Linked DNA regions of Homo sapiens. The protein of the gene in region 4 interacts with the protein of the main gene of each other region in a pairwise test. Each region holds a gene or a part of one and is shown on either strand. Other genes may lie near its edges. The genes, in order: ALAS1, ZNF436, IKZF3 and KIF9.

The links.
Region 1: the proteins of KIF9 (region 4) and ALAS1 interact in binary tests that used the Homo sapiens proteins (3 or more experiments, as listed by UniProt).
Region 2: the proteins of KIF9 (region 4) and ZNF436 interact in binary tests that used the Homo sapiens proteins (3 or more experiments, as listed by UniProt).
Region 3: the proteins of KIF9 (region 4) and IKZF3 interact in binary tests that used the Homo sapiens proteins (3 or more experiments, as listed by UniProt).

Annotation. Positions count from the first base shown.
Region 1 is NC_000003.12:52,201,136-52,208,159, forward strand, and holds part of ALAS1 (5-aminolevulinate synthase, non-specific, mitochondrial isoform 1 precursor), read left to right. Parts: intron 1-1,371; coding exon 1,372-1,599; intron 1,600-2,727; coding exon 2,728-2,877; intron 2,878-3,557; coding exon 3,558-3,780; intron 3,781-4,703; coding exon 4,704-4,888; intron 4,889-5,436; coding exon 5,437-5,616; intron 5,617-6,947; coding exon 6,948-7,024.
Region 2 is NC_000001.11:23,359,837-23,366,860, reverse strand, and holds part of ZNF436 (zinc finger protein 436), read left to right. Parts: intron 1-3,639; coding exon 3,640-4,892; 3' UTR 4,893-7,024. UniProt on the Homo sapiens protein: May be a transcriptional repressor.
Region 3 is NC_000017.11:39,791,304-39,798,327, reverse strand, and holds part of IKZF3 (zinc finger protein Aiolos), read left to right. Parts: intron 1-5,394; coding exon 5,395-5,655; intron 5,656-6,744; coding exon 6,745-6,912; intron 6,913-7,024. UniProt on the Homo sapiens protein: Transcription factor that plays an important role in the regulation of lymphocyte differentiation. Plays an essential role in regulation of B-cell differentiation, proliferation and maturation to an effector state.
Region 4 is NC_000003.12:47,279,793-47,287,663, forward strand, and holds the start of KIF9 (kinesin-like protein KIF9), read right to left. Parts: upstream 3,008-7,871; 5' UTR 2,801-3,007; coding exon of another isoform or gene 2,703-2,800; exon of another isoform or gene 2,348-2,702; intron 1,404-2,347; exon of another isoform or gene 1,197-1,403; coding exon of another isoform or gene 1,160-1,196; intron 1-1,159. Other genes in the region: KLHL18 (kelch-like protein 18), read left to right, coding at 3,174-3,302. UniProt on the Homo sapiens protein: Essential for normal male fertility and for progressive motility of spermatozoa.

The DNA.
Region 1 (7,024 bases), 4.9 Mb from region 4:
GCTAGCCAGTGACTCACAGGAGTGTTCCAGAATGATGAAGAAAGACTTTTCTAGAAAGAAGGTGAATGAATTTGCTCAAGGGGAGAGGGAAGTCACTGTAGCTAGAAGGATAATTACCAGCCAACGGTGTTTAGTCAGCAGACTTTGATGAATTTAGATGAGAAAGTAGATGAGGTATGTGAATGTGATATACCCCTATTTTTTCTTACTTTATTAGCAATCTAAAGACCTAAGTCTTAGTCTAATTTCTGTTGTTTAGATGAAAACCAATAGCTTTTATGTTAAGCAACAGCAAGCCTCTTTGTCAAGAATCTGTTTAGAAAATGTCAGCAGAGACAGGATGTGGTGGCTCATGCCTGTAATTCCAGCACTTTGGGAGGCTGAGGCGGGAGGACTGCTTGAGCCTAGGAGTTTGATAGAAGCTAGGGCCACATAACAAGACTCCGTCTCTACAAAAAATAAAAAATAAAAAGAATTAGCTGGGCGCAGTAGAACACCTGCAGTCCAAGCTACTTGGAGAGCTAAGGTGAGAGGATCACTTGAGCCTGGAGGTCAAAGCTGCAGTTAGCTATGATTGCACCATGCACTCTAGCCTGGTTGACAGAGTGAGATCCTGTTTCAAAAAAAAAGGAAAGGAAAATGTTAGCAGAGAAAAAAATGTGTGTGAATATTTCCCGTTACCTTACAGAGTGTGTCCTCTCATAAAATAAGCTGAGTGTAGTTGGGGTAGAAATTACTGGAAATGATCCAACTCAAGGATTCCGGGTTGTCTAAAACTAGAAAATGGTACTTTTTTTGGATTTATGACGAGAAATACTGTGGGTTTAAGAGGCAACTGGAATGTGCCAGTTAACTCTTCATAGACGCATTGTTTCCTGTGAAGCAGATGAAAAACTAGAGAGATTAGCAGAACCTAATAAAAATAAGCTTGTGGCTGAGTGCAGTGGTTCACGCCTATAATCCCAGCACTTTGGGAGGCCAAGGCAGGTGGATAACCTGAGGTCAGGAGTTCAAGACCAGCCTGGACAACATGGTGAAACCCCATCTCTACTAAAAATACACAAATTAGCCAGGCATGGTGGCACACACCTGTAACCCCAGCTACTTGGGAGGCTGAGGCATGAGAATCACTTGAACCCAGGAGGTGGAGGTTGTAGTGAGCCAAGATTGTGCCACTGTACTCCAACCTGGGGTACAGAGCAAGACTCCATCTTAAAAACAAAACAAAACAAAAAAAACACTTGTGTCTGGATGGTGGGGTACAGTAAGTATTAAGTTTATCTTTGAGGCAATAAAAGAAAGAAATAAGTGGTTTTCTTACATACTGTGCAACCAGATCTGATGCTTCACTTTTTCCATTTCCTCCCTCAGAAGACAAAACTGCTAAGGCCAAGGTCCAACAGACTCCTGATGGATCCCAGCAGAGTCCAGATGGCACACAGCTTCCGTCTGGACACCCCTTGCCTGCCACAAGCCAGGGCACTGCAAGCAAATGCCCTTTCCTGGCAGCACAGATGAATCAGAGAGGCAGCAGTGTCTTCTGCAAAGCCAGTCTTGAGCTTCAGGAGGATGTGCAGGAAATGAATGCCGTGAGGAAAGGTAAGAGATGAGTTGTGAACCATTAGTGGTAGTGAAGGGGTCCTTTTAGTTCTTTTGGGCCCTCAGATTTGTGTATGAGCTATTATTAGGGCAGTATTTATGGAAACACCTTCCTCTTTTAGGGCCAGAGAGGAAGGTCTTCAAGATAGACAGTCAAGGGACTGTATTGCGAAAGTGGGACTTTCTTTCTGGTGCGTGTGTGGGATGTGACCAGCTTTTATAGTTACTACTTAATTTCTGAAAATAACCTGCAGTCTTGAGCTGCCACCAGCTGCCTTTTGTCCCTTTGGTCTTTCCCATCATCTGCTAGGATAAAGATAGAAAATAATGGTTTTACTGCAGTAAGTGCTGGTCCTAGGGCTCCCAAGCCGTGTGTCTTACTGATGGTCATTGAATTGCAACCTTAACTCCACAATATATAGGTGTGGCTATATCTGCAGAGAACTCAAGGCTCCCCAAAAGCCTAACCAGCAGAAATTATGCATATGGCCAAAATTGTTTTCTATGAAGAAAATTGAGATTAGGACCAGGCCCAGTGGCTCACACCTATAATCCCAGCACTTTGGGAGGCCGAGGCAGGTGGATCACTTGAGGCCAGGAGTTTAAGACCAGCCAGGCCAACATGGGGAAACCCCATCCCTACCAAAAATACAAAGATTAGCTGGGCATGATGGCGCATGCCTATAGTCCCATCTTCTCAGGAGGTTGAGGAGGGAGGATCGCTTGAACCCAGGAGGCAGAGGTTGCAATGAGTCGAGATCGTGCCACTGCTCTCCAGCCTGGGTGACAGAATGGGACTCTGTCTCAAAAAAAAAAAAACAGAAAATTGAGATTAGGATTGGGGTGGGGATGTAGTGGAGTGAATAAGACATGCCAACCAGCAAGAAAGCTTTGGACTTTATTGTTCATTAAAGCTGGCCAGTAGCTCTGAAAACAACACCAAGAGTCTGCCATTACAGTAACTAAAATAGAAGAGATGCTTTGTACACTCAGTTATAACTAACTTTGGTTATGCTTGGCCTTTTTTGTGAACTAGGCCATAAGCCATTTTTGACAATATGTTTGGAAGATATTGTGAACTCAGAATAGAAAGTTGGTCCCATTTGTTTCTTGTTACTTTTGTTCCAGAGGTTGCTGAAACCTCAGCAGGCCCCAGTGTGGTTAGTGTGAAAACCGATGGAGGGGATCCCAGTGGACTGCTGAAGAACTTCCAGGACATCATGCAAAAGCAAAGACCAGAAAGAGTGTCTCATCTTCTTCAAGATAACTTGCCAAAATGTAAGTCTCATTGTTATTTGCCTGATGTAGAAAAGAATTTATAATTCAAATGTACATTAGATTAAATATAAAATTGCATGGTGAGGCTGGGCACAGTAGCTCATACCTGTAATCCCAGCACTTTGGGAGGCTGAAGCGGGAGAAGATCACTTGAGGCCAGGAGTTTGAGGCCAGCCTTGGCAACATAGCAAGACACTATCTCTACCAAAACAGTTTTTTTAATTAGCCAGGCATGATGGCTTGCATCTATAGTCCCAGCTACTCAGGAGGCTAAGGTAGGAAGATTGCTTAAGCCCAAGACTTCAAGGTTCAGTGAGCTATGATCACGCTATTGCACTCCAGCCTGAATGACAGACAGAGACTCAGTTTCTAGGAAAAACAAAAAAATGTATGGTGAGTTGAGGCTTGAAAGCCATATCCCTTGCTTGCGTGAGCAGGTGCTTTTGGTTGTGGTGACTACAGGTGCTGTTGGTAGCCTGCCTTCTGTCCTTTAATACTTACCGTCTACACATGGCACTGAGCCAAACACGACATACAGTCTTATTTACTTACAAGATGAGGACATCAAATAACCTGCCCAGGATCTCCCTCAGTTGCCAAGCTGAGACTTGTTGTATTTCACCAAAATGCAGCTGTGTTTCACAACCACCATTCTGTACTGTCTTTTGTTCAATTTTTAGCTGTTTCCACTTTTCAGTATGATCGTTTCTTTGAGAAAAAAATTGATGAGAAAAAGAATGACCACACCTATCGAGTTTTTAAAACTGTGAACCGGCGAGCACACATCTTCCCCATGGCAGATGACTATTCAGACTCCCTCATCACCAAAAAGCAAGTGTCAGTCTGGTGCAGTAATGACTACCTAGGAATGAGTCGCCACCCACGGGTGTGTGGGGCAGTTATGTAAGTAGCCCTTGGCTTTCAAATATTACTGTTGTTATTTGGCAAGCCAATGATGATGTATAGGGGTTGGATCTTTTATGGAGGGAACATTCAGTAGCTGAAAGTGTGCCATAGCAAAATACTATTCTTAGCTTCTGAAAAATATCTACAGATTACTTTTAAAGGAACTCTAATATGCAGGTAGCTGCTGGAGCCCCTTAACTTGTGAGGGTTCAAGCTTATAGGCTCAATGACCACACACGTCAGTCCACTTTCTATCACTCTGCAAGTGAGTGTGCCTTTAACACCAGGCAGTCTTTCACAGAGACATCCTTGGTTGTGGCTGTGAGTGGAGAAATACGAATCTAGCAGCGCTAGAGAAAAAGCTACTCCAAAAGACATGTTAAAAAGGATGGTAGATCCCATCACTCGTCCTTCAGGAGGCTCACCATCCTAGGGATGCTGGAGAGAGTTGCTGGCCAGATTCTCCAAAGGCTTGCTAAAGAGGGTCCCGGTTTGAGGTTTAATGATAGTGATATATCCAAACATTACATGACTGGCTTGCAGAGGGTAACCACCATCCAGGATGTCCCTCTAGAGTTTGCTTTTTCTTAAGCTAACATGTTATTGGAAAGAATAATGTTTCTCAGAAAATAAACCTTAGTTTCTTAGAAAAGAAACTCAGCTAATACCAAGCACTTACTGACTGTTAAATGAACACTTGTTCTTGATGATTCCTGGAGGTATCATCACCCTAGCATTGACACCTTCTCCCACCTAGTCTGAAGATGAAATCAGTTGAAATTTCTGACCCCAGGTTTCACAGTGAGAGAGTTGCTACATCAACATGTTTCAGTCTCCTGGATCCTAGAAAGGGGAAAAAATTCACATGGTGTTGAGAACCATGAGCTTTATTTTCTGGTTTTGTTTGTATTTTTAAACAGGGACACTTTGAAACAACATGGTGCTGGGGCAGGTGGTACTAGAAATATTTCTGGAACTAGTAAATTCCATGTGGACTTAGAGCGGGAGCTGGCAGACCTCCATGGGAAAGATGCCGCACTCTTGTTTTCCTCGTGCTTTGTGGCCAATGACTCAACCCTCTTCACCCTGGCTAAGATGATGCCAGGTAAGGAAGCCTGGCATGAGTGCCTTCGAGTTTTTTGGGTTTCTTAGTAATAACAAGAATATTGGCAACAAAGAAGCCTTACCAGAACCTCTCAATTGAAAATCATAATCCTATCTGGGCATTTGTTCTGGGGTCAAGCATGAAATGCTGACTGTACATTATGGGTTCCAGGAGAACGTGATACCAGTGAAAATTCAAACTTGAAACGTCTCATCCTTGAGCTAATTGCCTCAAATATGTTTTGTATTCTAAGATGATCCTTTGGAGAAGTCTCTTAATCATTTAGTTAGCTCTTGATTGAGTTTGGAGTGAGGCAGTCAGATTTAAGAGCAGATTAATGGCCTGCCACAAGGTTATTCTACACCTTTGGGCCTTCTCACAAGGGAAGCACTAACTAGTTATTTTGCCAGGAAGAAACTGGCACACAGTGTCTTTTTCCTACTAGGCATTTTCAAAGCATCATTTCCAAGGAAAAGTCTGTTGTCTTTCTCTAGGAAATAATTTGTCTTCGATGCACATGGCAATAAATAGCATTTTTGTTGTCTTAGGCTGTGAGATTTACTCTGATTCTGGGAACCATGCCTCCATGATCCAAGGGATTCGAAACAGCCGAGTGCCAAAGTACATCTTCCGCCACAATGATGTCAGCCACCTCAGAGAACTGCTGCAAAGATCTGACCCCTCAGTCCCCAAGATTGTGGCATTTGAAACTGTCCATTCAATGGATGGTAAGTGTGGATAGAGGTTCCTCTGAAACCTAAGATGAAAAACTATGCCTGAACTCTTTAAAAGTATGGTGTTTTGTTGTGTTTTTTAATTTTTTTTTTTTGTGACCGATCCTCGCTCTGTTGCCCAGGCAGGAGTGCAGTGGTGCGATCTCGACTCACTGCAAGCTCCGCCTCCCGGGTTCACGTCATTCTCCTGCCTCAGCCTCCCGAGTAGCTGGGACTACAGACACCTGCCACCACGCCTGGCTAATTTTTTTTTTTTTTTTTTTTGAGACGGAGTCTCCCTCTGTCACCCAGGCTGGAGTGCAGTGGCGTGATCTCGGCTCACTGCAAGCTCCACTTCCTGGGTTCACGCCATTCTCCTGCCTCAGCCTCCTGAGTAGCTGGGACTACAGGCGCCTGCCACCACGCCCAGCTAATTTTTTGTATTTTTAGTAGAGACAGGGTTTCACCATGTTAGCTAGGATGGTCTCGATCTACTGACCTTGTGATCTGCCCGCCTCAGCCTCCCAAAGAGCTGGAATTACAGGTGTGAGCCACCGCACCTGGCCTAACTTTTTGTATTTTTAGTAGACGGGGTTTCACTGTGTTAGTCAGGATGGTCTCAATCTCCTGACCTTGTGATCCGCCCACCTTGGCGTCCCAAAGTGCTGGGATTACAGGCGTGAGCCACCGCGCCTGGCCTGTTGTGTTTTTTAATTTTCTTTTCCTTTCTGCCAGGATTTTTTTTTTTCTTCTTCCAACTTTTAGGTTCAGTGGGTACATGTGCGGGTTTATTATATGGGTAAATTATGTGTCACAGGGTGTTGGTGTACCAATTATTTCATCACCTAGGTAGTAAGCATAGTACCCAATGGTAGTTTTTGATCTCACCCTCCTCCCACCCTCCACCCTCAAGTCGGTCCCTGGTGTCTGTTGTTCCCTTCTTTGTGTCCATGTGTTCTCAGTGTTTAGCTCCCACTTATAAGTGAGAGCGATATTTGGTTTTTCCGTTCCTGTATTAATTCACTTAGGATGGCCTCTAGCTCCATCCGTATTGCTGTAAAGGACATGGTCTCATTCTTTTTTTATTGCTGTGTAGTATTGCATTCTGCCAAGATTTGTAATTGGTGGACTTTTTTCTAATAGATTTGGGTGAAAGTGGATTTTCTATTCTGGCTTTTACTAGGCTCTGGGACCCCAGGTAACCTAGAAATTAGAGGAAGTTCATTTTCTTTCCAATATTGAAAATGATACCTTAGAATAGAAGTTTACGTTGTTCTGACTCTAACCAAAACAGAAATTTCTGAAGCGGCAAAAGCTCTTCAGAGCAGTCTCTGGTCTTTCCTCAGGGGCGGTGTGCCCACTGGAAGAGCTGTGTGATGTGGCCCATGAGTTTGGAGCAATCACCTTCGTGGATGAGGTCCAC
Region 2 (7,024 bases), on a different chromosome or scaffold from region 4:
AAAAAAACTGCTTCTGCACGTCTTAGACGTTCAGATTTCTTGTGCCCTGAGTCATTTTCCAATCTCCAGCCTGTTTGTACAGATCACTGACCAAACAGGTCTGGCATAATAGTGCTTGCCAGAATATAAATGCCCCGTAACTAGTGCTTTTACTCTAGGGTGCTAAAAGATGAGGGGATTCTAACCCAGGTTCATGGGAGGGCGAAAGCCACCTTTTTGTGTTTGTTTTGGCTTCAGAGCCCTAGCTTTGCCTCAAGTTCCTTAGCTGAGTAGATTCTCATCTAGAGATGTTTCAGTGTTGATGATGATAGATTTGTAGTGTGTCAAATGCTGTTCCAGAAGAATGCTGAAATAGATCACAAATTCTATTAGAGAGGGCAGCTGATTTTTTTTTCATGGTCTGCAAGCCTGTCTTCTCTCTTTGCTGTACTTTGGTCTGGGTGTAACTAGAATAAAGAGTATATTCTTGAGCTGAACGGTCTTTTGACTCACTTTGCCTCACTTTGCCTCCTGTCAAGACTTGACAGACATTAGCAAGCGTGTATGGGTCACTAGGTCATTTGCCATTCATTAGGATTAATCCTGTTTTTGAAATCTTTATTCCCATAGCCTTTTTCAGAACAAAAGGCAACTCTGAGGGCTTTCCTTTTTAACTTGAGCTTTCTCTGATGTCCCTAGTTTCTTGAATCCTTTCTTTATAAAAGTAACCATAAATAGTTATCTATCCAGATCTATTGCAGTCTGTAACCCAAATATTCCACTGAATCCAACAAAAGCAAAAAATGACAATCTTTAAAAAATGTGAATTTACAATTCTACAGTTTAGCCCCAAAAGCACTTGTTAGAAGGATGAAAGCGCCAAAAAACTGGTTTCTTGCCCAAATAAGTTTGGGAATGGGAATGGGTTTAAAAATGATTACAAGGCTTTTTTTTTTTTTTTTTTGAGACAGGATCTTGTTCTGTTGCCCAGGCTGGAGTGCAGTGGCACGATCACAACTCATTGCAGCCTTGACTTCCCAGGCCCAGGTCATCCTCCCATCTCAGCTTCCTGAGTAGCTGGGATCACAGATGCGTACCACCTTGCCCGGCTAATTCTTTTTATTTTTTAAAAAATTTTAAATTAATTAATTAATTAATTAATTTTTTTGAAACAGAGTCTCAGTCTGTTGCCCAGACTGGAGTGCAGTGGCCCAATCTTGGCTCACTGCAACCTCTGCCTCCTGAGTTCAAGCAATTCTCCTGCCTCAGCCTCCCGACTAGCTGTGATTACAGGTGCATGCCACCACGCTCAGCTAATTTTTGTATTTTTAGTGGAGACGGGGTTTCACCATGTTGGTCAGGCTGGTCTTGAACTCCTGACCTCAAGTGATCCGCCCACCTCGGCCTCCCAAAGTGCTAGGAATACAGGTGTCAGGCACCATGCTCAGCTTCTTTTTATTTTTTTATTATTTATTTATTTTTTTGTGAGATGGAGTCTTGCTCTGTTGCCCAGGCTGGAGTGCAGTGGCGCGATCTCAGCTCACTGCAAGCTCTGCCTCCCAGGTTCACGCCATTCTCCTGCCTTAGCCTCCTGAGTAGCTGGGACTACAGGTGCCCGCCACCACACTCGGCTAGTTTTTGCGTTTTTTTTTTTTAGAGATGGGGTTTCACCGTGTTAGCCAGGATGGTCTCGATCTCCTGACCTCGTGATCTGCCCACCTCGGCCTCCCAAAGTGCTGGGATTATAGACGTGAGCCACCGCGCCCGGCCTGCCTCTTTTTATTTTTAATAGAAGTGAGACCTCCCTATGTTGCACAGGCTGGTCTCAAACTCCTAGGCTCAAGTGATCCTCCTGCATCAGCCTCCCAAAGTGCTGGGATTAGAGGCCTGAGCTACTGCATCTGGCCTTATAAGGCCTTTTTACCTCAGGATTCCTTAGAACCTTTAATGTGTTATTAGGCATTGTGAATTTTGAAGGAAATGATATTGTATGTACCATTTACCAACCCAGTTTATCCATGAACCCTTTTCTCCCAAAATACATACTTTCTTTCTGAAGAGTGTACTAAGAAACCCAATTTGGAGAATGCAGTGTCTGGTATAAAACTCCTTGTAGACAGTGGTTGTGTATTTTGATTTTCATTTGAAGACTGCATGTGAAATATACTTAGACAATGCCAAGAATGTTCTCAGCCAGACATCTTTTTTGCCTTCTTCAACTTTCCCACTCCTATTTTCATTAAAAGGTCACTGAAAAGTAGGAAGTGACATTTGTCAGTCACTTTTCTGTCAACTATGACATAGGTAAAGATTCATTTTTCTCCATATTAACATAGTTGGTTCTGGCCAGGCACGGTGGCTCACGCCTGTAATCCTAGCAGTTTGGGAGGCTGAGGCGGGCAGATCACCTGAGATCAGGAGTTCAAGACCCGCCTGGCCAACATGGTAAAACCTGTCTCTACTAAAAATACAAGAAAATAGCTGGATGTGGTGGCGGGCACCTGTAATCCCAGCTACTCGGAAAGATGAGGCAGGAGAATCGCTTGAACCCAGGAGGCAGAGGTTACAGTGAGCGGAGATTGCGCCATTGCACTCCGGCCTGGGCAACAAGAGTGAAATTCCATCTCAAAAAACAAAACAAAACAAACAAACAAACAAAAACATAGTGGCTTCTTAGTAAATATTTTATGATGCTACTAATGATGAAGGCTTGGCAAGTTAAAAAATACATACTCACAAAATACCTAGAATCTTGCCTTTTAGATATTCTAATTTAGAGTCTCATATTTTCTGCTTCCAGTGTTCTTTCAAAACACGAATATATATAGTTTTTTTTTTAAGAGACAGGGTCTCGTTCTGTCACCCATATTGGTGTGCGGTGGCACAATCACAGCTTATTGCAGCCTTGAACTCCTGGGCTCAAGTGATCCTCTTACCTCAGCCTCCTGAGTAGCTGGGACTACAGTTGCATGCCACCACATCCACCTAATTTTTTAAATTTTTTTGTAGAGATGGGTTCTCCCTATATTGCCCAGGCTGGTCTTGAACTCCTGGCCTTAAGTGTTCCTCCTGACTTGGCCTCCTAAAGTGTTAGGATTACATGCGTGAGCCACGGCACCTGGCCTGTATAGTTTTCTTAATGAATCATTAATTACAGCGATACAGAATGTGAATTTTGACAGACCTGAGTTTGAATACTGGCTCTACCATTTACTATGGCCTTGAGCAAGTCAATTCACTTGTCTGGGTCTTGGATTTCTCATTAATGAAGTAGAAATAATCACAATTCCTGACTCTCAGAATAGCTGTGATAAAGAATATATGTGACGAAGAATATAAATAATTTAGGCTGGCCACAGTGGCTCAGAAGTTCAATACCAGCCTGACCAATATAGTGAAACCCTGTGTCTACTAAAAATAAAAAAATTAGCCGGGCATGGTGGCGTGCACCTGTAGTCCCAGCTACTCAGGAGGCTGAGACAGGAGAATTGCTTGAACCCAGGAGGCAGAGGTTGCAGTGAGCCAAGATCACACCACTGCACTCCAGCCAAGGCAACACAGTGAGACTCTGTCTAAAAAAAAAAAAAATTTAGTATAGTGCCTGGCACACAATAGGTAATTTTTGTACTTACTAGTCTTATTGTTTACTTTTTATTACAGATTTTGAGATCAGGAGTGAGAACGAGGTAAATCCCAAGCAAGAGATTAGTGAAGATGTACAATTTGGGACTACATCTGAAAGACCTGCTGAGAATGCTGAGGAAAATCCTGAAAGTGAAGAGGGCTTTGAAAGCGGAGATAGGTCAGAAAGACAATGGGGAGATTTAACAGCAGAAGAGTGGGTAAGCTATCCTCTCCAACCAGTCACTGATCTACTTGTCCACAAAGAAGTCCACACAGGCATCCGCTATCATATATGTTCTCATTGTGGAAAGGCCTTCAGTCAGATCTCAGACCTTAATCGACATCAGAAGACCCACACTGGAGACAGACCCTATAAATGTTATGAATGTGGAAAAGGCTTCAGTCGCAGCTCACACCTTATTCAGCATCAAAGAACACATACTGGGGAGAGGCCTTATGACTGTAACGAGTGTGGGAAAAGTTTTGGAAGAAGTTCTCACCTGATTCAGCATCAGACAATCCACACTGGAGAGAAGCCTCACAAATGTAATGAGTGTGGAAAAAGTTTCTGCCGTCTCTCTCACCTAATCCAACACCAAAGGACCCACAGTGGTGAGAAACCCTATGAGTGTGAGGAGTGTGGGAAAAGCTTCAGCCGGAGCTCTCACCTAGCTCAGCACCAGAGGACCCACACGGGTGAGAAACCTTATGAATGTAACGAATGTGGCCGAGGCTTCAGTGAGAGATCTGATCTCATCAAACACTATCGAGTCCACACAGGGGAGAGGCCCTACAAGTGTGATGAGTGTGGGAAGAATTTCAGTCAGAACTCCGACCTTGTGCGTCATCGCAGAGCCCACACGGGAGAGAAGCCATACCACTGTAACGAATGTGGGGAAAATTTCAGCCGCATCTCACACTTGGTTCAGCACCAGAGAACTCACACTGGAGAGAAGCCATATGAATGCAATGCTTGTGGGAAAAGCTTCAGCCGGAGCTCTCATCTCATCACACACCAGAAAATTCACACTGGAGAGAAGCCTTATGAGTGTAATGAGTGTTGGCGAAGCTTTGGTGAAAGGTCAGATCTAATTAAACATCAGAGAACCCACACAGGGGAGAAGCCCTACGAGTGTGTGCAGTGTGGGAAAGGTTTCACCCAGAGCTCCAACCTCATCACACATCAAAGAGTTCACACGGGAGAGAAACCTTATGAATGTACCGAATGTGAGAAGAGTTTCAGCAGGAGCTCAGCTCTTATTAAACATAAGAGAGTTCATACGGACTAAGCTGTAATTATGATGGCTGAGAAATGATTCATTTGAAGATACAATTTTATTTGATATCAATGAACGCCCTCAAGACTGAGCTGCTTTTATCATACTCTCCTAGTTGTGGGCCACGATTTAAACCATCAGAGATGACAAGCCATTTGAAATTCTGACCCTCAGCTTTGGGAATGTTATCTCCTCCAAAATGGTGATTTTTATTCACTCAATGGGTTACTTCATTAAAAGCAGCCCCACAAGTAACTGGAAATCTGAAGACCAGGGGACAAATGCTGGTGAATGCTTAGGCCTGGAAATGGAGTAAATCTTTCAATGTTATTTTCTCCCATCCTTGGCCCAAGGAACTATGCTAAGTGAAACGTGGGACTGTAATAGGGTGGTAATGGCTGCTTTGGAAAAAGGCAACTAGAGACTCTGCCTAAATTGCCACACCTATTCACACACCATAGTAGTTGGGCACACACATCTTCCCTTCCAAAGGGCTTTTTCCTTGAGTTGCTCATGCATTTGTATCTTTTCCATCTTCCTGAGGGCAAGATTTTGCACGATGAAGGCAATGATTGTAACTTTTCTCCTTCTCATTGTTTCTAATTAGCTCCTTTAAAGCTTGCATCTTTGTGAAGGCTAACTGAAGATACGGTTGGAAAGGAAAAATGAGACACAGGTTTGGGGACCAAGGACCCATCAATGATGGTGACTTTAGCAGAAGATGCCCACAGTTATTACTGCCATTAATCAGATTTATGAATTTTCTTTGGGGATCACTATAGGGAATATTGTATAGAAAATATCTTCAAGAAAAGATAGGACCATCAGTGACAGTTAAGTGTAAGGAGCAAGTGGAATTGAGTCCTTCAGGGAAGGAACCACAGAGTCCCTTCCCAAGGAATGTAGGTCGTTTCTGTGTTCTTTCCCTTCTAATCTTTAAGATCAACTCTTCCTATCCTGCTAACTCTAAGATTTGATAAGGGCCACATCCCAGTGTTTATCTTAGCTTGCATCAGGGCATGTGTATGTACAGTAATGTGTATTCCTGTGGTTTTTCTAATAGAAACTGAATTTACAGAGACTTAGCATGTTCTTGGGTGATGTGAGTCATGTGACAGAAGTACAGACATAACTCCAATGTGAGAAATGTCCTTTTTTCATTATGGAAAATAATTTAAACACTAGTGCTTTAGTGTGCACTCTCCTGTAAGGTCTGTCTTTGTACAGAGCTAAGCACTTGTTTGTATGTGTTTGTCAATTGTGGAAGATAATGACCAGACAAATAGGTCGATTGTCCTATTCTCAGAATGAATTATCTTCTATGGTAATGAAGAACTCTTTGGCTTAGTCAGAAGGAATTAACGAACCTCGGTAGGAATGTATTTCCATCCTCCCACCCTACAGATATAAGAGGTTAAAATAACAGTTCGCCCAATTTAAGCCCAGTAGTGTCAGTTTTCCTAATCTCAGTCCAGGTAGGAATTAAGAAATATCTCAAGTGTTGATGCTATCCAAGCATGTTGGGGTGGAAGGGAATTGGTGCCCAGAAAATGGGACTGGAGTGAGGAATATCTTTTCTTTTGAGAGTACCCCCAGTTTATTTCTACTGTGCTTTATTGCTACTGTTCTTTATTGTGAATGTTGTAACATTTTAAAAATGTTTTGCCATAGCTTTTTAGGACTTGGTGTTAAAGGAGCCAGTGGTCTCTCTGGGTGGGTACTATAATGAGTTATTGTGACCCACAGCTGTGTGGGACCACATCACTTGTTAATAACACAACCTTTAAAGTAACCCATCTTCCAGGGGGGTTCCTTCATGTTGCCACTCCTTTTTAAGGACAAACTCAGGCAAGGAGCATGTTTTTTTGTTATTTACAAAATCTAGCAGACTGTGGGTATCCATATTTTAATTGTCGGGTGACACATGTTCTTGGTAACTAAACTCAAATATGTCTTTTCTCATATATGTTGCTGATGGTTTTAATAAATGTCAAAGTTCTCCTGTTGCTTCTGTGAGCCACTATGGGTATCAGCTTGGGAGTGGCCATAGATGACCGCATTTCCATGACCTAACTGTATTTCACCCCCTTTTCCTTCCCTACTGTTCTTGCCCCACCCCAACCAGTTCCTGCTGCTGCTTTTGG
Region 3 (7,024 bases), on a different chromosome or scaffold from region 4:
ACTTTATTTTGTTGGCAGTGGAAAATATTGAAGAATTTTGACAGGGCTATGACATGACCAGAGGTAGAATTTAGGAAGAGCAATCTTGTAGCAACAAACAAGACGGGCTGGAAAGGAGAAAGAAGGGAGCCAAAGAGAACAGTGCGGGGGCTACAGCAATAAGTAGATCGTGGGAAAGTCATAGGGTCTGAGAATTAGGTAATGGGCATGCAAAATACAGGAGTGGAGAAACAGATTAGAGATTGGATACACAGATAGAACCACTGAATGATTGAATGTGGGGCCCAATCAGGAGAAAGGAAAGATGACTCTAAGGATTCTAGCCTGAGTAACTGGGAAGATACCTAGGAAGCCTTCAGAAATAGAGGACTAAAGAAAGGGAGAGAGGTTACACCTGGAGTTATATATATGGAAATTAATCATATAAGATGTTAGTCGAAGCCTTAAGAATGAATGAAATTGCCATACAAGAGGGGTGTAGAGGGAAGAAAAAAGAAGGTTAAGGACAGTATTTAGGATGCAGAGGGAAGAAAAGGGGCAAGAAGGAAGCAATCAGAAAGGCAAGGAAAGAAGGTACATTTTCATTGAAGAAATAGGAGTGCAGGGGCCGGGCACGGTGGCTCATGCCTGTAATCCCAACACTTTGGGAGGCCAAGACAGGTGGATCACCTGAAGTCAGGAGTTCGAGACCAGCCTGGCCAACATGGTAAAACCCTGTCTCTACTAAAAATACAGAAATTAGCCAGGTGTGGTGGCACGTGCCTATAGTCCCAGCTACTCGGGAGGCTGAGGCAGGAGAATCGCTTGGACCTGGGAAGCAGAGGTTGCAGTGAGCCGAGATCGCACCACTGTACTCTAGCCTGGGCAACAGAGTGAGACTCTGTCTCAAAAAAAAAAAAAAAGAAAGAAAGAAAAGACATAGGAGTGCAGAAGAACAAGGAATGGTGAGTGGTCAGTAGTGTTGAGGATTACAAAGAAGTTGGAGAGAGTGGCATACAAAAAGGCTCTGAATCTAGGAATCAGGAGATTATGGTTGGTGATATTCAAGGGAGCAGATTAAGTGAATTGTGGAGGCGGAAGCCATATTACAGAGAATTCTGAGTCCTTTTTGAGGCTGTAGAGGCAGTAAGCATAGCTTACCTATGTCTTTTTTTTTTTTTCTTGAGACGGAGTCTCACTTTGTCACCCAAGCTGGAGTGCAGTGGTGGGATCTCAGCTCACTGCAACCTCCACTTCCCAGGTTCAAGCGATTCTCCTGCCTCAGCCTCTTGAGTAGCTGGGACTATAGGCGCACACCACCACGCCTGGCTAATTTTTTTGTATTTTTAGTAGAGATGGGGTTTCACCATGTTAGTCAGGATGGTCTCGATCTCCTGACCTCATGATCCACCCGCCTCGGCCTCCCAAAGTGCTGGAATTACAGGTGTGAGCCACCGCTCCTGGACCACCTGTGTCTTAAATCTGTCTAGAAAGGAATGTTGAGGCCGAGCGCAGTGGCTCACTCCTGTAATCCCAGCAGTTTGGGAGGCCGAGGTGGGTGGATCACGAGGTCAGGAGTTCAAGACCAGCCTGGCCAAGATGGTGAAACCCCGTCTCTACTAAAAAAAAAAAATTAAAAAAATAGCCAGGTGTGGTGGTGGGCACCTGTAATCCCAGCTACTCAGGAGGCTGAGGCAGGAGAATCGCTTGAACCAGGGAGGCAGAGGTTGCAGTGAGCCGAGATCACACCACTGCTCTCCAGCCTGGGCAACAGAGTGAGACTCTGACTCAAAAAAAAAAAAAAAAGAAAGGAATGTTGAGAGAGGATGAATTTAGGTATGATGTGATGAAAGGTGAAACCAAATTGCAAAAGGAAAGGAAAAGAGGAGTTGGCACCTAGAGAGCCTGAAGACATAGAGTTGATAGATCTTGGAGACTGACTTGATGTAGAAATTGAAAGAGAAAAGGTTCCACAGTTTGATGGCTTGGAGACTGGAAGAAGGGTGATGCCATTTGTCAACATAAATAAGTCATAAATTAGAAGCAAGTTTGGGTTCAAAGATGACAAGTTTGATTTTAGACATGTTCATTAGTATTTTCTAATAGAATTTTTCTAAGTAGAACACCCCTTTTCTCTGCTTCAATAAGTCTTCCAGGGAATGGGATGAATCTCTTCATTAGAGCAGGCTAATGCCTTTCCTGGTTTTGGTGGACTGTGTTTGGAGGCTGAGTACTAAGCCTAATATCTCTCAGGAATCTCATTCATACCTTAAATTCTAATTTATTTTATTTTATTTTATCTTTTTTGAGATGGCGTCTCGCTCTGTCGCCCAGGCTGGAGTGCAGTGGTACGATCTCGGGTCACTGCAACCTCCACCTCCCAGGTTGAAGCGATTATCCTGCCTCAGCCTCCCCAGTAGCTGGGAGCCACCATGCCCAGCTAATTTTCTATATTTTTAGTGGAGACGGGGTTTTGCTATGTTGACCAGGCTGGTCTCAAACTCCTGACCTCAAGTGATCCACCTGCCTTGGCCTCCCAAAGTGCTGAGATTACAGGCATGAGCCACTATGCCCAGCCAGCAATTTATTATGGCTTACCTTGAGAAGGTAACAGAGTTGAATATTAGAATAAATTAGAATCTGGTTGGACACGGTGGCTCAGGCCTGTAATCCCAGCACTTTGGGAGGCCAAGGAGGGTGGATCACTTGAGGTCAGGAGTTCGAGACCAGCCTGGCCAACATGGCGAAACCCCGTCTTTACTAAAAACACAAAAATCAGCCAGGCATTGTGGTGCATGCCTGTAATCCCAGCTACTCGGGAGGCTGAGGCAGGAGAATCACTTGAACCTGGGAAGCAGAGGTGGCAGTGAGCTGATCGTGCCACTACACTCCAGGCTGGGCAACAGAGCAAGACTATGTCTCAAAAAATAAAATAGAATAAAATAAAAATAAGTTGCTAATCCCCAGTAACCATGCAGAGAGGTCATCCAGGTCATTCATCTAAAACTGGTAAGACTCCAAAGGCAAACCAGCAACTATGTAAGCCCAAAGGACTTCTCTAATGCCCTGTCCCTGTGTCCTTATGTCCCTGGGTCTCAAATACTGTCTTCCTTGCTCTATAGCTGACTCCTAAAGGACTAAAGCTAAGATCTGCTCTTGAGCCAGGATGGTGTCGTATTGAATTCCAGGTCAGGCCAACTAAAGCCAAAATCCTGAGGGAAAGGAGCAGCTCTCTTATGTCCTCTGTTTTCAGAAAGACTCAACACATTGATCTTACTACATTTTAAAGTTCAGTGACCATGGAGTGGCCTGAGTCTGGTCATGTTCACATTTTCTAACCAAAATGGAAAGGATCCTTTTCTGCTGGCCTTTTCTATCTGCTGTTTTTGGTTTTAAGTAGCTGAAATTTTCCGTTGAGGTTCTTTTAAACGCCTACATGCAAACTGAAGAGCACTCAAGCTTTGGTGGGATATTACCCACAGCTGGAGTGATGGAGGAAGGGAGGCAAGTACAAGCCTCAGGTGCATCCTTCTCTTAAAAAAATAAAAAATAAACACTTAAGCAAACAAATTCCACTTGAAAGCAGGGAAGACCTATCCAGAGAAAGAAGTAAACCTCTTTCCAAGTAGGAAACAGATATCATTTCTTATATAATCCAGATCCATAGGGTGGGCAAATTTGAAACATGTTGGACTTATCCTACAGCCCTACATCTTTGCTAGTCAAAGAGTGAAAAGTTGTGAACCATGAACTGTGGTAGGAAGCAGTGGAACTGTGTGGCAGCCCTGGCTCCTCTGATGGTGGTTAGGCCCTGTCTTGCTCTATTAAGCAAACACAGTTAATATAGATGAAAGGTAACCTTGATAGAAGTGAAAATTGAAACTTGGGTTGAAGGTAGCAAGCCAGGCACAGCTGCAGTTGTACTTCCTCCTATGCAGCAAGAGGAGCAACACTTACTGATGTTTTTTGGAAGGGATGTAGTTTTTTAAAATATCTTTTTTCAGACTGTTTTGGGTTTTAACATTTACACCATTGATGGGAGGGTGTGTAATACAGTTGGTAAGAACCCACTTAGGCCTTATATGTCTAGTGCATGAGGTCAAATCCAAGTAATTGATAGTTCAAGCTTAAGTTTTGCATTCTAATCACACCTCTGCCAGTAACTGGATGTGTAACCTTCGACAAATGACCAAAAACATCTCTGCTCCCAGATTTCCTCATCTGAGAAACAAGAGGGTTGGATTAGATGACCTTTAAATTCCCTTCCAGCCCTACACTCCATTGATTTGTGATTCCTCATGGGGAGGTACAACTTTTGATTTCTAAGGACCAATGGTTGAAAAAGTAAGCATTTATATAGCATATTTTATATATGCAAAATCCCTTACAAATGTTTATTATTCTTACATCAGGCAAATTTTTAGGTTTTACTAGTGTCAGTGCAAGTACATAAATTTGCCTTCTTTGTTTCTTATGTTCTTCATATTTTTCCCACGTTCTTCATATGTTCTTATGCTCTTCATGAAGAGTATTACAGCTCTTCTTTTAAATTTCATTCATTTACATTGCAGTTCTTAAGATAGTACTTGGTCAGCCAACTCACTTGAGCCAGTCCCTCCTCTCCTATCCAGTCCTATTACACAATCCTTGAGTCCTTGAGTTTAGTTCTCCCTAACTTGGGACCTAATGGTCCTTCCCCTTATTTAGATTGAGCCCCACTTACCTGTGTCGATGAAAGTGACTCCTTAGGTTATATGAAAGAATTACTTTTCCTTTTGTCTTTCTCAACACTTTTTCATTAGTACTGACAACTTCCTCTACAGTCAATGTTGTGCCTTTATCAGCTCCAAGAGAGACAGAGATAAGATGTGTTTTAGCAATTCATATACGTGGAAGGGGAAGAGGCAATGCATGGCTTAAAATTAGAAAAACTATGTTAACTAGTCAACTCTTAATCTTAATGGCTTACACTGGATGCATCTGAAGGATTCAAACAATATTTTCTCCTTGAAACCTAAGAGTACATCACCTTGCCTTTTTAACTGCAGCCACCAAAAACAGTACTAGATCTGAGAACCCTTCCTCTCCCCTAGTACTGGAGAAGAGTTGCTCAATGTTTGTTTCATGGCCACTTTGAGCAAACTTAGCTAAAATCTATTATCTGTAATTTTCTGGATAGCCTAAAACACTATCGTCTATTTTTATGTGTGTAAGTATGTGTGTTTTCCTCTGACTGTGGTTCTGAATTTAAATAACGTGCGGTCACGCTAATGGTGCTTTCTTGTTTTGTAGATGTACAGTGTTTTGTTAGCTTCGATTGGTATTTAATTGTCAGTTGTGGGTCTCTGCTGTTTGAGCTGCTTTGATAGCTTCAAGTATAGTCGTTGTTCATTTCTTGCATTTTCTTCCCTGCAGATGATTCAATGAAAGTGAAAGATGAATACAGTGAAAGAGATGAGAATGTTTTAAAGTCAGAACCCATGGGAAATGCAGAAGAGCCTGAAATCCCTTACAGCTATTCAAGAGAATATAATGAATATGAAAACATTAAGTTGGAGAGACATGTTGTCTCATTCGATAGTAGCAGGCCAACCAGTGGAAAGATGAACTGCGATGTGTGTGGATTATCCTGCATCAGCTTCAATGTCTTAATGGTTCATAAGCGAAGCCATACTGGTAAATAGTCTGCTTTTTTCATTCTTCTGAAAACTCTCCTAATGCAGCCACGTGAGAAATGAAGTGGTGGAATTTGGAACTTTTGGTTACTTTCATTGATTTTTGCTATAATGCTGATGTATCTCTCTCTCTGCATTGCTGTTCACTCAGTGCTTTTTATTCCTGCCTCACCATGCATTTGGCAAACATATTGCAAATGCTATGAATAAAAAAAGACTGTAGAGAGCACAGTGTTCTAGGTCAGCCAAATACTTTTTCTTCAGTTTCTAAGTAGGAGTTGAATTGTGTGATTTGCTTCTTAGCCATCTTTTGTATATTTTTGCATAACATTTTTAATAAGAGCAGATCTTCTTATTGTATTGGGTTCAAATTTGGTAAATGAAAGGACATAGTTTTTATTTCCAGCTTAAAATAATGTATCTTCAGACAATAAACAGGTAGTCTATAGAAATGCATACAAACACAACCATCGCACTTGAGCCAGTCGATTCCATCCCATATCTCATATGAAGACTTTAAAAAGGAGAATTTCTAGCCCTCAACACCTTGTAAGGACTTTAGTTTCTGGCTCTTTTTTCAAAGGAGATTATATTCAAAAGGAATACTAAAAAATTAGCCAGGCATAATGGCAAACACTGGTAGTCCCAGCTATTCTGAAGGCTGAGGTGACAGGCTCACTTGAACCCAGGAGGTCAAGGTTTCAGTGAGCCATGATGGGACCATTGCACTCCAGCCTGAGCAACAGAGCAAGAAGACCCTGTCTAAAAAAAAAAAAAAAAAAAAAAGGGAGTACCAAGTAATATAGTAATATAAAAACTTAGATCTAGAAAGCACTTCTAGAGCTGCTCTTGTTTCTTTGCTCTGATTCAATATGATACCTAAAATAGCCTTGCTAGTGGGTGCTTTTTCTCTTCTACAGAGGAGATTTCATAAGTAAGTCTTAGGCTTGCCTTGAAATGCAGCTCCCAACTGATCCCAATGTGAACAGTAATTGTCTAAAAGATGAGCTTTTCCCCTAGGCATCTAATCTGTGCATATGTTTCTCCACTTGCCTGTGACCAGAAATCTCCTTTTTTGTCCTTTTTAAAGGTGAACGCCCATTCCAGTGTAATCAGTGTGGGGCATCTTTTACTCAGAAAGGTAACCTCCTCCGCCACATTAAACTGCACACAGGGGAAAAACCTTTTAAGTGTCACCTCTGCAACTATGCATGCCAAAGAAGAGATGCGCTCACGGGGCATCTTAGGACACATTCTGGTAAGTGAGAGAAATGAGCATTCCTTGTCTAGGAAGTGCATTCCTCAGAGCCCAGTGTGGAAACTAGAAAGAGTTAAGTAGGAAGGTTTCAATCTGTCATTCTTGTTCTGAA
Region 4 (7,871 bases):
ATTTTTAGTAGAGATGGGGTTTCACCGTGTTAGCCAGGATGGTCTCGATCTCCTGACCTCGTGATCTGCCCACCTCAGCGGATCATTTTATATAAAATTATCTAAGAGAGGTCCAATGGGTGTTACCTGACAAAAGTTATTCCAGATTTTATTTATTTATTATTTTTGAGACATTTATTTCAGACAGAGTCTCGATCTCTCTCTCAGGGTGGAGTGCACTGGTGTGATTTCAGCTCACTGCAGCCTGTCTCCCAGGCTCAAGCAATCCTCCCACCTCAACCTCAACCTCCAGAGTAGTGGTAGGACAGGTGTGTGTCACCACACCCGGCTAACGTTTTGCAATTTTGTAGAGATGGGGTTTCAACATGTTGCCCAGGCTGGTCTCAAACTCCTGGGTTCAAGCAATCCACCCACCTCAGCCTCACACTCAATTTCTAAAGCTTGGGGAACCGGGGAACCACTCTTCACATCCAAGGGCCCATTCTCCTGCCCAGGGAAATTCAGATGCCATCCAGGGTATGCTCCGAAAGGGACCATGAAGAAGCAGGGGAGCTCTGGGAGCAGGTGCCCAGGCCTCTCTCCCTGAAGCCCCTGCACAAGAGTAGCACAGGCCAGTTCAGAGCATCAACCTCAGCTGGGCATGGTGGCTCACGCCTGTAATCCCAGCCTTTGGGAGGCCAATGTGGGAGGATCGCTTGAGGCCAGGAATTAGGAACCAGCTTGGGTAACACAGCAAGACCTTGTCTCTACAAAAAATTTTAAAAATTTGCCAAGTGTGGTGGTGCACGCGTGTGGTCCCAATTTCCCAGGAGGCTGAGGCAGGAGGATCACTTGAGCAGTGATGGCACACCACTGCTCTCCAGCCTGGACAACAGCGTGAGACTGTCTCAACAAAACAAAACAAATAAGCAAAAGCATCACTCTCCCTCCAGAGCCTGGCCCTTCTCTGCCCTGCTATTTGCCAACATGCACATGCACACGCAGTCACCCCATGTATGCTTCCCAAGGCCCTCCCATGCTGACACCATGGCTCCAAGCAGGCCAGGAGCCATATCCACCTGCAATAAAGTCTTCCTTTGCACACCCGTCTTGTGAGCCTGCTACTCAGCAGCCCTTTAACACCCAAACATTTAGGGACCCCATGCCATCTTGCACTTACTGAAATACTGCTTGTTACCATTCTTACGTCGCTTCATTTGAGTGGGTTTCAGTTCCCAAAATTAAATTACAAGCTGCTTGAAGGCAAGGATTGTGCTTTTTATCTCTTTTGAATCCCCTCACAATGTCCAGGGCAGAGCCCAGCACAGAGTAGGTATTCAGGAAATGGCGGTGGTTGGTGATGGTAATGGCTGGAAGTCAGAGGGCAGCTGAATCTTCATATGTGGGTCTATCTTCAGTCACTACTGAGAGAGTCCCAAGGGGCATATGATGTCACTCCCCTTCCATGACAACTCCAACCAAAGCCCACAGCCCTTCCAGGAGGACACTTGGTTTCCAGGTGCAAAAATCCACATCCAGCACCTCACCACACGCTTTTTTTGTTTTTGTTTTTGTTTTTTGTTTATTTGTTTTTGTGACAGGGTCTCACTCTGTCACCTAGGCTGGAGTGCAGTGAAACAATCTCGGTTCACCGTAGCCTCCACATCCTGGGTTCAAGCGATCCTCCCACCTCAGCCCCGCAAGTAGCTAGGACTACAGGCGTGCACCACCACGCCCGGGTAATTTTTGTATTTTTCGTAGAGACAGGGTTTCGCCATGTTGCCCAGGCTGGTCTTGAACTCCTGAGCTCAAGCAATCCGCTCACCTCAGCCTCCCAAAGTGCTAGGATTACAGGCGTGAGCCACGGCGCCCGGCCCCCTCCCTTTCTCCCTCAGGACCTTGTGGGGAATGTCTCTCCTTGGGGAACCACCCTTTGATATTTCTGGTATAACAAAGCAAGTCTCTGAATGGCCACCAGGAGACTTCTGTGTTAAGGCGCTCGAGGTTTCCTCATTTGTCTTTAGTGGGAATGAACAGAATTGGCAACAAGCAGCCATGAAGACTAGACAAGAGGAAAGGGAGCGTTTGGTGGGGTGGAAGGCACCAGGTGGGTCCCTATCTTCCAGTGCTCCCGTCCAGATGAGGGGCTGTCATGGGGAACCCTCATAGCTACCCGTAGCGGCAGCACCAACACCCGAATCCAAAACACTGGGTCCAACTGCACCTGGCCTTGGCTGAACAAGACTAGGATGCAGGCAAAACTAGACTTTCTCCTTTTTCTCACCCAATGTGCCGGACCCCCGCGTGGAGCCTGGGCGGCAGTGGGCTTTGGACCCATTCCGGTCCCTCTCTGGAGAGGTTTCCTCACCTGTAACACGAAGGGCTCCGACTGGTGATCCCAAAGCCCCCTCTAGTTCGAAAACTGACTAGTACGGAAGAGTCCAGACGACCTCTGGCTCCCTGCCTCACGGCCTCTATGTCCTGGACGCGACGTGGGACCCCTTTGTGGGACCAATGAACATTAGCTCCGAAGACCGTAAGCCGCGGTCAGGTTGAAAGGACTCCCGCGACGTCGAGCCCTCCTTCGCCTGGGTTTCAGAGATGAGCGACCCAGCTGGGAACCCCCAGATAAAGCGGTTTTTGGACCCCAGCCACTTTCAGCAGTCCGGGCGCACACCCTTTTCCCGTCTCCCCACTCCCACCGGCGAGCAGCCCCTGCTCACCGTTCACCAGGCAGCGACGCTCCCGGGACGCGACTGCCGCAACCGAAACCACCTGCACTCCCCACGCGGGGCTGCCTGGCTGTGTACATAGTCGCCATGGCAACGGGTCGCTTCCGGGGATTCCGGAAGTGTCGGGGTGGCGGAAATGAAGTCCGAGGTCCTACGTCGAGGATACGGGTGAGGTCATGGCCGAATCGGGAAGACGAGAGATGGGGCCGATTGATCTAGAAAGACTTCGGCGGATGCACATGCGAAGTCAAGGTCGAGATAGCGAGGGAACGAAGGCCGCACATGAACCAGGAAGCGGAGTGGCGGGGCTTCCGGCGCCGAGGAGATTCAACTACGGCGGCCGCGGAGGCCCGTCCGATTGCTGCTCCGCGCTCCGAGCGGCTGTCGGCGTGCGCTATCGCCCCGCCCTGGTTAGTGTCTAGCCGGCCGGCGAGGCCTGCGCAGTTGCAGCGGCCGGGGAAGATGGTGGAGGACGGCGCGGAGGAGCTGGAGGATCTGGTGCACTTCTCCGTGTCTGAGTTGCCTAGTCGCGGCTACGGCGTCATGGAGGAGATCCGGCGGCAGGGCAAGCTGTGCGACGTGACCCTCAAGGTACCGCGGACTGGGCGGCAGCGGGCTGAGGGAAAAGGGGTCGAGCGGGGAGTAAAAAGGGGCGGGGGACAGAGAAAGAGAGGTCTAGCAGGGAGAGGGGTGGGGAGAAGAGGTGTGAGGGGGGCCGAGTAGTGGGGAGAGAGGTGCCGAGCAAAAGGGGATCGGGGCCGAGTGGGGAGAGGAAGAGGACAACCTTTCAGCCCTTGAAAGGAAAGGTTGAGAGGTGCGCCGCTTAGGCCCTTGGAGTGGGAGACACGGGTGACAGCCTCCTTTTTCTGTCATGCAGACAAGAGAAAATGGACTTACCTTCTATGGAGGCAGGGGCGGTGGCCGGCTCCACATGCTGATGGGCACCACTGAAGAACCTTCTCTTGTCACTACAGATATTTCTTTGTGCCTGTCGAACTTGGCTGTGCTGTTCTAGAAGAGAAGGCTTCTCCTTAGGAATCATTGCCCTTAATTGTTGAATTACTACTTTGTCTCTTAAGAGCTTTTAAAATCTTCTCTGGAAAATTTTTGAGGTGGGAAGCCACCCTGCCCCATACTGGAAGGCACCACTCACCACCACAAAGGTCCCCGGGGCTGGGCCTGCTGGCCGCGTGGGGAGAGGGATGCTGACTGATATTAAGAGGGAAAGATATCTTAACCACCTGTTCCCCACCAGCATTCTGGTCGCTAGAGCCAGCCTCCCTCCTGTGCCTGGGTCTTTTCATGAGGAAGAGGCATGCTGTGCTGCTGCCTGGCCAAGCCACCGAACCATGTGGAGACGTCCGGTTGGGGAGATGATCAGTGGGGCTCCCTGTTGGGCTTTAGCTGGAAAGCTCTCAGCATCTGTGCGTGATCCCTGTTTAAAAAACAAACAGGGCAGGCATGGTGGCTCACACCTGTAATCCCAGCACTTTGAGAGGCGAGAGGATCACTTGAGTGGGGGAATTGGAGACCAGCCTGGGCTATGTAGGGAGACCCTGTCTCTACAAATAATAAAAAATTGTCTGGGCATGGTAGCCTGTGCCCGTAGTCCCAGCTACTCAGGAGGGTGAGGTGGGAGGATCGCTTGAGCCTAGGAGGTCAAGCCTGCAGTGAGTTGTAATCACACCACTGCACTCCAGCCTGGGCAACACAGCAAGATCCTATTTCTCCTATTTCTCTCTGTCTCTCTCACACACACACACACACACAAATAAATAAATAAAAGAAAAAATAAAACTATGCAGAGATTCTTTTGCTCTTCTTTTCTTTTTTCTTTTTTTTTTTTTTTTTGAGACGGAGTCTCGTTCTGTTGCCCAGGCTGGAGTGCAGTGGCGCTATCTTGGCTCACTGAAACTCTCTCTCCTGGGTTCAAGCGATTCTCCTGCCTCAGCCTCCCCAGCAGCTGGGACTACAGGCGCGCACCACTACCCCTGGCTAATTTTTTCTATTTTTAGTAGAGACAGGGTTTCACCATGTTGCTCAGGCTGGTCTCGAACTCCTGAGCTTCAGCAGTCTGCCTGTCTCGGCCTCCCAAAGTGCTAGAATTACACGCGTGAGTCACCGCGCCCAGCCTGCTCTTCTTATTTTCTACATGGTTAAGGAAACTTTTCTTCTGCAACATAGTTGAGTCAGACCTCTGGAGATGGTAGAGTAGGATGGTTGAGTATGGCTTTGAAAGCAGAAGGATTTGGATTAAAATCCTAGTTGTAACCTTGAGCAAGTTACTTAATCTCTGTAAGCCTCGGTTTTTTTGCTTTTATTTTTATTTTTTTGAGACAGAGTCTCGCTGTGTGGCACAGGCTGGAGTGCAGTGGCATGATCTTGGCTCACTGCAACCTCCACCTCCTGGCTTCAAGCCAGTCTCCTGCCTTAGCCTCCCAAGTAGCTGGGACTACAGGCGCCCGCCACCACGCCCGGCTAATTTTTGTGTGTGTTTTTAGTAGAGACAGGGTTTCACTACGTTAGCCAGACTGCTCCTGACCTCGTGATCCGCCCACCTCAGCCTCCCAAAGTGCTGGGATTACAGGCGTGAGCCACCAAGCCCGGCCCTTTTCATCATTCTAAACCCCTCCTGAAGGAGGTTGTTTTTCCAGGAGAGGAGTGAAGTGATCTGAGAAGGCGTGAGATCTTCTCATATGGGAAAGAGGAACCAAGAGAATTGAGAAAAAATGAGCTAGACTAAAGGAAGCAGAGGAAGTAAAAGTAAATTAGAAGTTTTTGTCCACAGTGATTACATGGTAGAAGATGTTAAGGCCACTAGAAACTTGTAAGCAGAAAAATGATCCGGTTTTGGCAGCAACACTTGGTGTAAATAGAGACTAGTGAAAAGCAGTAATAGGTGTGAATTTCTAGATTAAAATTTAGGCTGTAGGCTGGGCACCGTGGCTCACGCCTATTATCCCAGCACTTTGGAAGGCCAAGGCGAGTGGATCGCTTGAACCCAGGAGTTTGAGACCAGCCTGGGCAACATGGCAAAACCCCGTCTCTATTGGGGAAAAAAAAAAAAAGATTTAGGCTGTAAGGGTGAACCAGGGGAATCTTACAAGACACAGGGAATCAAAAAGGGCGTGGCAGCGTGGGATGGTCACAGATACTTCTACATAAAGTATTAATAGTACATTTAATGCAGATACTGAATATGGTAATCTTTTAGCAGAATATTGCTTGTTCATTCAAAGGGACAAGTAAATTATCAGACATGGCTGGGTGCAGTGGCTCACGCCTGTAATCCCAGCACTTTGGGAGGCCGAGGCAGGTGGATTGCATTGAACTCAGGAGTTTGAGACCAGCTTGGGCAACGTGGTGAAACCCCATCTCTACAAAAAATTAGCTGTAGTGGTGTGTACCTTTAGTCTTTCTTAGCTGCTCAGGAGGCTGAGGTGGGAGGATCACTTGAGCCTGGGAGGCAGAGGCTGCAGTGAGCCGAGATCGTGCCACTGCACTCCAGCCTGGGCAACAGAGTAAGACCCTGTCTCAAAAAAAAAAAAAAAGAATCAGACGTAGTTTCAACTGAGACGGTCAGCCCGAATTGCTGTGTTAGCTTCAGGGATCTAGAACATAAGGACCAGTATATTTATTTTTTTCTCTCTTTAATAAAAAGCCTTCAGTGGGAAGGACTAGTATAAACGCATGGGCTAGAGCTGGACGGGACTGTAGAGAGCATTTACTTCACTGATTTTGAAAACTTTATTGTAGAGCCCAAGGAGTAGCTCTGTAGCAATATAATGGTGGGACCGGGGAAAGAGCATGCAAACCAGGCTCTGCACATTTCACTACTTGCCACCAGAGCTGTCCTGGGAAATCTATTTTGTCTCTCTTTCTTGTCAAAGTCTTCCTTCAGTTTTCTGGTGACTCCACAGTGTTTTTCAAGTAAACAGACACTGAAAAACTGGTTGGAAGCTTTTGGGTGTGAGATGTTTTCTTGACTGGTGGGCCTCCCTGTCAGGCAGTGGTTCTTAAACTTCAGTGGACGTCAGAATCACCTGGTGGCCTTGTTAAAACGCTGGTTGTTGGACCTCACCCAGAATTTCTGATTCATTAGGTCTGGCATGGATCTGAAAACTCATATTTCTGACAGGTTCCCCTGTGATGCTACTGTTAGTCTGGGACCACGTTCTGAGAGCCATGGTTGTAGGGTGATGGACCTGTCGTTTTTCTGTGGGATGTGTTCAAAGTCCGTAGATCTTCCTCCAGGCTTCTTCCTAGGTGGTATAAGCCTGGCTGTTATTTTGGGAGCCTTATGGTAGGAGAGGTCTGGAGGTTCTCCCTTCTGTATGCAGACTTTCACTTAATCCCCCTAAATGGTACCACTTCCTTGTCTTCTGTGGTGCCCTGGTTACCCAGATCCAGAGGCTCTTGTTCATCCTGTCTGAAGAGTAAACCTCCAGTCTTCTGCAGTTGCTTGTCTGGGGAGGGGGACCAGTACTTCCTGATTTCGGCCCTTCTTCTTGCTCACAACTTCAGAGGAAACTGGTACCTCCAGTGGTTCCATTTTGGAGGGGATTCTTCAGTGGCTTGCCATCCGCAATACTCAGTATCCTCTAAGTCAGTTACTACTCATGTGTCTTCTTTTCTTCTTCTAAAATTTTGTTGACCCTTCTAAAATTTTGTTGACCCTTCTAATGTGCTGTCTCTCTCTGCATCTTTTTCCTTCAGAGCTTTGCTGTTCCTTGATCATCAGTCCGAAAGGCGGTATCACACAGACTCTGCAGCCACACTGCCTACGTTTGAGTTCTGGGTCTGCCACTTGTTAGCTGTGAAAATGAGCAGCTTCCTTAAACACTGGTGATTCTCTGTCTCGTCTGTAAAATGCACATCACCACCTACTTGAGTGTTGAGGATTCAATTAGTTAATGTACTTCAAATAATCATGTAGTAAATGCTCAGTAGTGTGTGTGTGTGTGTGTGTGTGTGTGTATTTTTTTTTCTCTCTTTTTTTTGAGACAGAGTCTTGCTCTGTTGTCCAGGCTGAAGGGCAGTAGCGCAATCTTGGCTCACTGCAACCTCCGCCTCCCAGGTTCAAGCGATTCTCCTGCCTCAGCCTCTTGAGTAGCTGGGATTATAGCTACATACCACCATGCATGGCTAATTTTTGAATTT